Linked DNA regions of Homo sapiens. Changing the gene in region 1 together with any one later gene gives a genetic interaction. Each region holds a gene or a part of one and is shown on either strand. Other genes may lie near its edges.

Region 1 (4,381 bases):
TAGCTCACTGCAGCCTGGAACTGCTGGCCTTAAGTGATCCTCCTACCTCCTGAGTAGCTGGGACTACAGGCACACACCACCACACCTGACTAATCCAAACTCATCCTTTTATCAGGAACTTACTCCTATGATAATGGCAATCCATTTGTGAGGGCAGAGCCTTCATAATCTAATCACTTCTTAAAGGTCCCACCTCTCAATACTGTTGCATTGGGGATTAGGTTTTCAACACATGAGCTTTTGGGGACACATTCAAACCATAGCAGGTGTCAGCCCTGGTCCAGTCAGCCTTGCCCAGTGGGCAGGGAAGGGCTAGGGCTGTGTGGTTCAGAACACGGCTGCCCTCCGAGCAAAGACTGTGGGTGATTTCACTCAAAAGTTGCAGTGAGTCAGTGGGCGGCAAGGTGGAAAACTGTAGGGTGGCCAGTTAGCCGTAAAAAAAGATCACACTGTGTGTTTGAAAACATGAAATCCAAGCTGTAGAATTCACTTATTTTTTGCCTGGAAACCCTCTGTGTTTCCAGTGGCCTCGCTGGGGGAGCCCACAGGCTTCAGCTCCCTATTGCCTGGGCTTCCATCTGGGTCCTGTCCCCAGGACTGTGGTTTACCATGATTGTGCCTGTGAATAGCTACTGACCTCTGAGGCAAGTTATGCTATAAAAGTGCTTGGAACAGTGCCTGGCACATAGTAAGCACCCAATAAATGTCACCTTATGTTATTTTTTAAAAAAACATGAGTACTGGGCTTGTTTGAGACAGAGATAGCATCTTCAGTGGTGGGGCCTGGCTGTGTGTTTCTTCAGAAGCTCTGCGAGTGACTCTAAGGTGCATTCCTGGTCACAAACCTGTGCATGGAGGGGATGGGTGCAGCAGACAACTGAGACAGCCAAGAACAGGTTCTCTGTGCCTTGCCCTCCCTTCTGTAAAACAGGGCTGGAAGTTGGGACTGAGACATAGACATAGGCCGATCATGAAACTGGAAGGGACTTGAAAACCATCAAGTTTAATCCCCTTATACAGATGGGGAAATTGAGCCCCAGGTGGGGAGGGGAGTGACTCGCCCCAGATCACTGTCAGGTCAGTGGGAAGGTAGGACTAGAGTTAGGCCGTCTGCCTCCCCATCCAGTGCTCTTTCTTCCTGCATGGATTGGGTATGTACCAACCTTCTAAGTCTAAACACCCTTACTGACCCTGTGGGGACCGGAAATACACAGGTAGATCCAGATTCAGAAGGATATACAGTGAAAATTCTCCCTCCCACTCCACCCAGCCACCTCCCTAGAAGTCAGATTCTTGTGTGAACTTCAGAGGTGTTTTATGCTGCACACAAATGCATATGTGTCCTCTTCTGTCTTTCTTATATCACATTTATCTGTATTTTTTCACCCACTATATTTTGGAGATTATCCCATGTTGGTATATGAAGAGTGTCTTTTTGACCAGCCTGGACAACATAGTGAGATCCCATCTCTACAAACAAAATTTTTTTTAATTAGCCAGGTGTGGTGGCACGCACCTGTAGTTTCAGTTACTTGAGAGGCTGAGGCCGGAGGATCACTTGAGCCAGGTGTTCCAGGCCACAGTGAACTATGATCACACTTCAGCCTGGATGACAGAGCAAGACCCTGTCAAAAAAATATATATTTTTTCTTTCTCTTCTTCTCTCAAGATCTCTTTTCTTTCTTTCCTTTTCTTCTTTCTTTCCACAACACTTTTTTAGGGGGGTAGACTTATCCTTCTAAAATGAGGGGAACCTTCACTAACGTCAGATGAGTACTTGTCTCATTTTACCAAGTACTTGCTTGGTAAAAGCAAGTACTTGGTAAAGTACTTCCTACTTTCTACTTCAATGAAGCTGGCATTCAGTGGGTTTAATTATTGTGCCTCCTGCAAAGCAGATGTTAACAGCTGTAGGGGCAAACTGCAGCTAATACCAATGGTATTGGCCAGTTGAAATCATCATGGTTTTACAAAGGGTTAATAGAGAGGGTAGTTTCTTCCACATACTTTTGAGAGCTGGTATATGCTGATTTCTGCTGCTGCCTATTTAATAATGATGATGTAAAAGATTTAGAGATGTCTGGCTGATTTTGACATTGGCCTGTAGTCCTAGAAGAGACACTACCCTGAGTGTCTTTGAGCAGTCAGAGAGTGCACCTCTGCCCTGGGCCTGTTTACCTGTTAGAGTGAGCCACACAAGAAGGAATTCAACGTGGCAGAGCTCTTGCCAGAGGGAGCTGACCATCTTCAAATGTTAAAAAAGGTAGACAGAAGAGAGCCCTTAGCCCAACCCCTATGGTTTTGAGGGACTTGATTTGCATTCACCTTGCTTGGACACTGAACCAGCTGAGGAAGGAGTTTCACCCAAGATTGTGGGTTTTCCCTTTCAGTTTCAGTTATCATTTGTTATTGATTCTTTTCTCTTTTTTCAAGGGTCTGAATCCAGGGAAAGCTATTGCAGAGATCAAGAAAATGATGGCAACCTATAAGGAGAAGAAAGCTTCAGTTTAACTGTTTCCATGCTAAACATGATTTATAACCAGCTCAGAGCTGAACATAATTTATATCTAATTTGAGTTCCTTTAAAGATCTTGGTTTTCCATGAATACAGCATGTATAATAAAAATTTTAAGAAATAAATGTTATTCTACTTTATTAACAAAAAAAAAAGAACCTGTTCCTTTACTTGCCGCAGGGGAATGTGAAGGTGCCAGGAGTCCTTGTCCTTGGAGAGATGGACAGGGCTTCAGAGCTGAGCGGGGGTGGGGGTACCCTAGCTGGAAGGAGGTGATGAGCCGTGGAACTGACATCAGCAGGGCCTGCAGCTTGTTCCCAGCTTTGCCACTCACCAGCTAGACAACCTTGGACAAGTTCCTTCACCTCTTTGCTGCTCCATTCGCCCATCTGTAAGATGGGATCCATAATTGTGCCTACTTCATTCATCTGGTATGAGAATGCCTGGCACTTATTCTGAACACTCAGTTAGTGTTAGTGTTCTGTATCTTCCCAGTTTCTATAGTTTTCAGTACCAGAATTACTGAAAACCAAATCTTGGTAAGTCTTTGGATACGTCGGTGAGGCCAGGTTTGAGATTCCTCCAGCACAGAGCAATGACCCTGGTCAGTTGTGAATCCAGTTAGTTCCACAAATGACCTCGTGGGGCCTCTCACTGCAAACATCAACTCCACAGCACTGCTGCCTTGGCTGGCATGCTCACTGCACAGCCGGGCGTGGTGGCTCACGCCTGTAATCCCAGCACTTTGGGAGGCTGAGGCGGGAGGATCATTTGAGGTGAGGAGTTCAAGACCAGCCTGGCCAACGTGGTGAAACCCCGTCTCTACTAAAAATACAAAAATTAGCTGGGCAGTGGGTGTGCGTGCCTGTAATCCCAGCTACTTGGGAGGCTGAGGCAGGAGAATCACTTGAGCCTGGGAGGTGGAGGTTGCGGTGACCGAGATCACACCGCTGCACTCCAGTGTGAGCAACAGAGTGAGACCCTGTCTCCACAAAACAAAAAAGCAATGCAAAAAAGGAGAAAGGGGGAAAGTAAAAGTGGAAGCTCCTCCAAACTCATCCCGTTGATAGCTTAGACATTTCCTTCCACACTCTACGTTATTACAGTTATGCAGCATATATAAAACTTTCTCCCTTCAAAAGTAAGGTACCATAGAGCCAGGAGCTGTGGCGTGTGCCCCTAATCCAGCTACTCAGGAGGCTGGGGTGGGAGCATCACGTGAGCCCAAGAGGTCGGGGCTATGGTTTGCCATGATTGCGCCTGTGAATAGTTACTGCGCTCCAGCCTGGGCAACATAGTGAGACCCCATTCCTTTAAAAAAAAAAAAAAAAAAAGCCTGGAACAGTGGCTTCTAGCACTTTTGGGAAGCCAAGGTGGGAGGATTGCTTGAGGCCAGGACTTCAAGATCAACCTGGCCAACATAGTGAGACCCTGTCTCTTTTTTTTCTTAACATACCAAAAAAGATTTTAAAAATAAAGGGGTATCCTATAGTCTGCCAGCAGCTATTTTTTTTTTTTTTTTGAGACGGAGTCCCAAAAAAAAAACTGCACTCCGCCTCCCGGGTTCACGCCATTCTCCTGCCTCAGCCTCCCAAGTAGCTGGGCCTACAGGCGCCCGCCACTATGCCTGGCTAATTTTTTTGTATTTTTAGTAGAGACGGGGTTTCACCGTGTTAGCCAGGATGGTCTTGATCTCCTGAACTCGTCATCCGCCCGTCTCAGCCTCCCAAAGTGCTGGGATTACAGGTGTGAGCCACTGCGCCCGGCCTCTATTTTTACCTCACAATGTAGAAGGGATTTCAGTGCTAATAAAGACCTACCTTTTTGTTGTTGTTGTTTTGTTGTGTGTTTTTTTTTTTTTTTTTT
Region 2 (5,475 bases), on another chromosome or scaffold:
TGTTCTTGATATATTAAGTATATATACTAGATATAGTTTATAGTATATTGTAGAATATATGTATTCTATATTTCTTCAATTCTAAGACTCCATTAAATGTGTCATATTCGTGTAATAACTTAGTGAAATGAAACACATTAAGAAGCATTAAGGTGGGGATGAAGTATATCAGAGATTATCTCTAGAATTACTTGATTCGAAACGACATACGTACTTCTTTGTGCCTTTCGATATTATCCAAAATGTCCATATGATCATATATTAGTAAGGTGATGTTTTTATTCTCTACATCCTTTGTGTAGTTATATATTCATTTAAATTAATGATGGTTGTAATTCAAAGATAGTTTTGAGTAGAGGCTATTAGGAATGTGAAGATCATACTATTGCTGATTCCTGCCTTCGCATGTTGCAAATGGAATTAAATGTATTAAATGTATTATTAGTATGTGTTGTTTGAACCCTACATCTGACTTCAGCATCCCTTTGGTGAGTACCTTTTTCCTTTATTTATTTATTTTTTTACCTAAGAAGCTGAAAAGAGTGAAGATTCCTCTGGTGCTGCAGGCCTCTCAGGCTTACATCGCACATACAGCCAGGACTGTAGCTTTAAAAACAGCATGTACCATGTTGGAGATTACGTCTATGTGGAACCTGCAGAGGCCAACCTACAACCACATATCGTCTGTATTGAAAGACTGTGGGAGGATTCAGCTGGTAAGTTTGTTTTAAATCAAAGGACAGTTTAGTGAGATATGACTGTTTGACTTCTCCTTGCTCCTCAGGGAAGAAAATTTTAACTCAGACATCTTAAGCCTTTCCATAATAATTGTTCAATATGTCAATAAATGTAAGTAAGCACCCATCATATGAAAAACATAGGACCTATTGGGCAAGTGTCACAGTTGAGTCAAAAGAAATACAGCTTCTAGGTCGGGCGCGGTGGCTCACGCCTGTAATCCCAGCACTTTGGGAGGCTGAGGCGGGCAGATCACAAGGTCAGGAAATCGAGACCATCCTGGCTAACACAGTGAAACCCTGTCTCTACTAAAAAGATACAAAAAATGAGCTGGGCCTGGTGGCGGGCGCCTGTAGTCCCAGCTACTCGGGAGGCTGAGGCAGGAGAATGGCGTGAACCCAGGAGGCGGAGCTTGCAAGGGAGCCGAGATCACGCCACTGCACTCCAGCCTGGGTGACAGAGTGAGACTGTCTCAAAAAAAAAAAAAAAAAAAAAGAAAGAAATACAGCTTCTTAAAGTCTGGTTGAGATTCATTCATTCATTTGATACTTATTAAAAACATACTTTGAGCCAAACTTTATGTAGAGTGACATAGATTCAGAAGAACAAAAAGCTCATATTTTCCCTTGCAAAACTACTCCAGTAAGGAAGATTATGATCAAAAAAGAAATTATTATAGAATGACATGCCTTGGCTTAGCATTTGTTTTCAAAAAGGCTTTCTAGAACAGTTGCCTTTAAATTGAGACATGGAGTATGCATAGAAATTAATGAAGCCAGAAGTTGGTGGAAATGTGATCCAGGCAATCCAGTTCTTTGAGCTGCCTATCACATGAAATACTTTTGTATTCCTTCACCAGAGAGCTAAATATGTCCTTCAGTAGCATATCTGTCCCCTTACTAAAGTGCACAACTCTAGGTATGTACTAACCAGAGCAGAGTGGAGCAGGTCTCATCACCTGTCCTCCTCATTATGTACTTTATATGGCTTTTAATATGAAGAAGAGCCTGGGCAACATGGCAAGACCCCTTCTCTAGAAAAAATAAGAAAATCAGCAGGGTGTGATTGCACTTGCTGTGGTCCCAGCAACTTGAGAGGCTGAGGCAGGAGGATCACTTGAGCCCAAGAGGTTGAGGGTGTATATATATATATATGAGGGGGGAAAAGTAGCATGCATTTTTTAGGCCTCATTACACTTTATTATTTTTGAGTATTATTTCTCCTGTGGATAATTATATTAAACTGTAGCTGTAAAAATAAGCACAGTGCTAGGTTCATGTCATGGCAGAGTGGATTGATGGTGTATTTCCTAATTTTGCAAAGAATGTGTGATTTCTGAGCTGGACACAGTGACTTATACTTGTAGTCCCAGCTACTCAGGAGGCTGAGGTTGGAGGACCACTTTGGCCCAGGAATTCAAGTCCAGCCTGGGCAACGTAGTGAGACCCAGTCTCTTTAAAAAAAAAAAAAAAAAAAAGTGATTTCTGTTAACAATGATTCTCTTTCTCTTCCCCTTCCCCCACCCCCCATTTTTGAGGTGAAAAATGGTTGTATGGCTGTTGGTTTTACCGACCAAATGAAACATTCCACCTGGCTACACGAAAATTTCTAGAAAAAGAAGTTTTTAAGAGTGACTATTACAACAAAGTTCCAGTTAGTAAAATTCTAGGCAAGTGTGTGGTCATGTTTGTCAAGGTAAGAAACTCATTAAATCCCAAAGTCTCACTCATTCCCTAGGAATAAAATTTTAAAACACAGAAAATAATCGATGTTTACAAAATTAGGAACTCTGTTTTAAGCTATTTTTTAAGCCGTGTCTATATAGCTATATGAAAAGATTTGGGAAGAAATTAACCTGAACTTCGTTGTGAAAGACCACTTGCTGCTTACACTATTTGGCTATAATGCAGTTAGGTTAAGTTTTTAATATTGCCAGGCTAATTTTTAAGTATGATGTTTTTTTAAGGATAATCATTACAAATTTTCAGTTTGTTTTTTAGGTAATAATGTGTGCTTTTGTGTGTCTGTCTGATACACACACACAAGCCCTCTTCAAAGCTTTAAGGAACATTATAGCTATATGAAATGTTCATATGTTTTCAAAGAGCAATTGTAAGCTAAATGGAATTATTTGTTTTTATAATTTAAAGGGTGTGTATATAATAAGTCCATTCCGTAGCCAAAGAAATACTTCTAAATCTCTGGTCATTTATTATTTTTTGTTAACTGCCAGAAAGTCTGTAATCAGTTCAGCTTTTGTTTGGTTGGTTGGTTATTTGCTTTTTTTTTTTTTTTTTTTGATTGATTTTCAGAAAATTCACCTAACTAGTTTTATTCTTATGCCCTCCCCACCCCCCAGGAATACTTTAAGTTATGCCCAGAAAACTTCCGAGATGAGGATGTTTTTGTCTGTGAATCACGGTATTCTGCCAAAACCAAATCTTTTAAGAAAATTAAACTGTGGACCATGCCCATCAGCTCAGTCAGGTTTGTCCCTCGGGATGTGCCTCTGCCTGTGGTTCGCGTGGCCTCTGTATTTGCAAATGCAGATAAAGGTGATGATGAGAAGAATACAGACAACTCAGAGGACAGTCGAGCTGAAGACAATTTTAACTTGGAAAAGGTATGCAGATAATAGCCACACAGAAAAAATTTTACATCTCAAAACACCTATTCCAGAAAATAAATGAATAAAGTATTCAAACTTAGAAAAAGAGCAACAACACAAAACCTTAGCCAAACAGGAAGAAGGAAACTATAACAGAAAGAAATTTACACTTTCAAAACTGTACATTATAATTTAAAAGTAAATCAGGCCAAGTGCATTGGTTCACGCCTGTAATCCCAGCATTTTGGGAGGCCAAGGCGGGCAGATCACGAGATCAGGAGTTCGAGACCAGCCTGACCAACATGGTGAAACCTCATCTCTACTAAAAATACAAAAATTAGCTGGGTGTGGTGGCGCGTGCCTGTAATTCCAGCTACCCAGGAGGCTGAGGCAGGAGAATGGCGTGAACCTGGGAGGCGGAGGCTGCAGTGAGCTGAGACCACGCCACTCTACTCCAGCCTGGGCAACAGAGTGAGTCTCTGTCTCAAAAAAACAAAAAATTTTTTTAAAGTAAATCTAAGAGCTAATTATTTGACAAGTCCAATTAGATAAACTGCCAACTATCTAATAATGGGAAAAGAAAGGGGTTAAACTTCGACACAAAATGTGGAAGAAGGCCAGGCGCGGTGGCTCACACCTGTAATCCCAGCACTTTGGGAGGCCAAGATGGGTGGATTACCTGAGGTCAGGAGTTCGAGACCAGCCTGGCCAACGTGGTGAAACCCTGTCTCTACTAAAAATACAAAAAATTAGCTGGGTGAGGTGGTGGGTGCCTGTAATCCCAACGGGAGGCTGAGGCAGGAGAATCGCTTGAACCCAGGAGGCAGAGGTTGCAGTGAGCCGAGATCGTGCTATTGCAGTCCAGCCTGGGCAACAAGAGCGAAACTCTGTCTCAAAAAATAAATAAATAAATAAATGTGGAAGAAATGTAAAGACTGTATATTTCTGCTAATAAATTTGAAAACCTAAATAAAATGGCTAATTGTCTAGGATATTACAAATTACCAAAATGGAATCAAGAAGAGATATAATACAGAATGTACAACAACATGAAGAAATTTTTTAAAGTATCATAGAACTGACCCCAAAGAGTACTGAGGTCAGACAGTTCCATAGGTGACTTTTTCTTTAAGGGACCTATGATTATTATACTGTTGAAGCTGTTTCAGAGCAGGGAGAACAAGAAATTTCCAGTTTGTTTTGCAAAGCCAAGATAATCTTGATTTCACAACCTGAAAAATAAAAACAAAAAACTGCAACTCAGTCTTATTCATGTATATTGATGCAAAAATTACTTGGGGGAAAAAGTAAGTGAAATCAAATTACTTCTTTGAGAACAACATGACCAAGAAGTGGGAATTCATTCTAAGAAAGCAAGAATTGTTCAAAGTTAGGGAGATCTTTAAATTTCATTCATTATTCCATTAGATCAAAGGAAAGATTATTTGGTAGAGAACCCATCTTGATTTTTTTTAAGACTTTCAATAGGTATTTCTTCTAGTGTAATTTTTTTTTAAATTCATATTTGTGTCTCAAGCCTGAAGCCTATAAAACAAATTCCTTTTTAAATTTACACACTGGACAAAGGGGCTTACTGTTCTAGTGTTACTTAATATTTTTTGAAATTAGCCAATGTAGTTAGATAAACAAAAGCAGTAAAAATATTGACAATAAAGAAGCAAGATGGCAGGCGTGTTGGCTCATACCTGTAATCCTAGAACTTTGGGAGGCCAGGGCAGGTGGATCGCTTGAGTCCAGGATTTTGAGACTAGCCTGGGAATCATGGTGAAACCCCATCTCTACAAAAAGTACAAAAATTAGCCAGGCATGGTAGCACATGCCTGTAGACCCAACCACTTGGATGGCTGAGATGGGGGTATCCCATGAGCCCAGGAGGTAGAGGCTGCAGTAAATTGTGATTGCACCACTGCACTCTAGCCTGGTCAACAGAGCAAGACCGTCTCAAAAAAAAAAAAAAAAAAAAAAAAAGCAAGAATACTTTTCTGCAGATAATTGGGGGAAATTAACTGAAAAGGTTGGAAACAGAAAATTTAGCAAATAGAAATTTCAAAATCCATATGTAAATGAATAGTCTTCATATATAAACTAGTAAGACTTTTGAAAGTAAA

What was found. Genes that interact genetically often act in the same process or in processes that back each other up.
Region 2: changes in SDHB (region 1) and PBRM1 together harm fitness more than expected from each alone (negative genetic interaction), as found in Homo sapiens cells (one large-scale study listed by BioGRID).

What each region holds. Positions count from the first base shown.
Region 1 is NC_000001.11:17,017,011-17,021,391, reverse strand, and holds the end of SDHB (succinate dehydrogenase [ubiquinone] iron-sulfur subunit, mitochondrial isoform 1 precursor), read left to right. Parts: intron 1-2,433; coding exon 2,434-2,511; 3' UTR 2,512-2,670; downstream 2,671-4,381. UniProt on the Homo sapiens protein: Iron-sulfur protein (IP) subunit of the succinate dehydrogenase complex (mitochondrial respiratory chain complex II), responsible for transferring electrons from succinate to ubiquinone (coenzyme Q).
Region 2 is NC_000003.12:52,584,311-52,589,785, reverse strand, and holds part of PBRM1 (protein polybromo-1), read left to right. Parts: intron 1-530; coding exon 531-716; intron 717-2,275; coding exon 2,276-2,433; intron 2,434-3,097; coding exon 3,098-3,361; coding exon of another isoform or gene 3,362-3,373; exon of another isoform or gene 3,374-4,605; intron 4,606-5,475. UniProt on the Homo sapiens protein: Involved in transcriptional activation and repression of select genes by chromatin remodeling (alteration of DNA-nucleosome topology). Required for the stability of the SWI/SNF chromatin remodeling complex SWI/SNF-B (PBAF).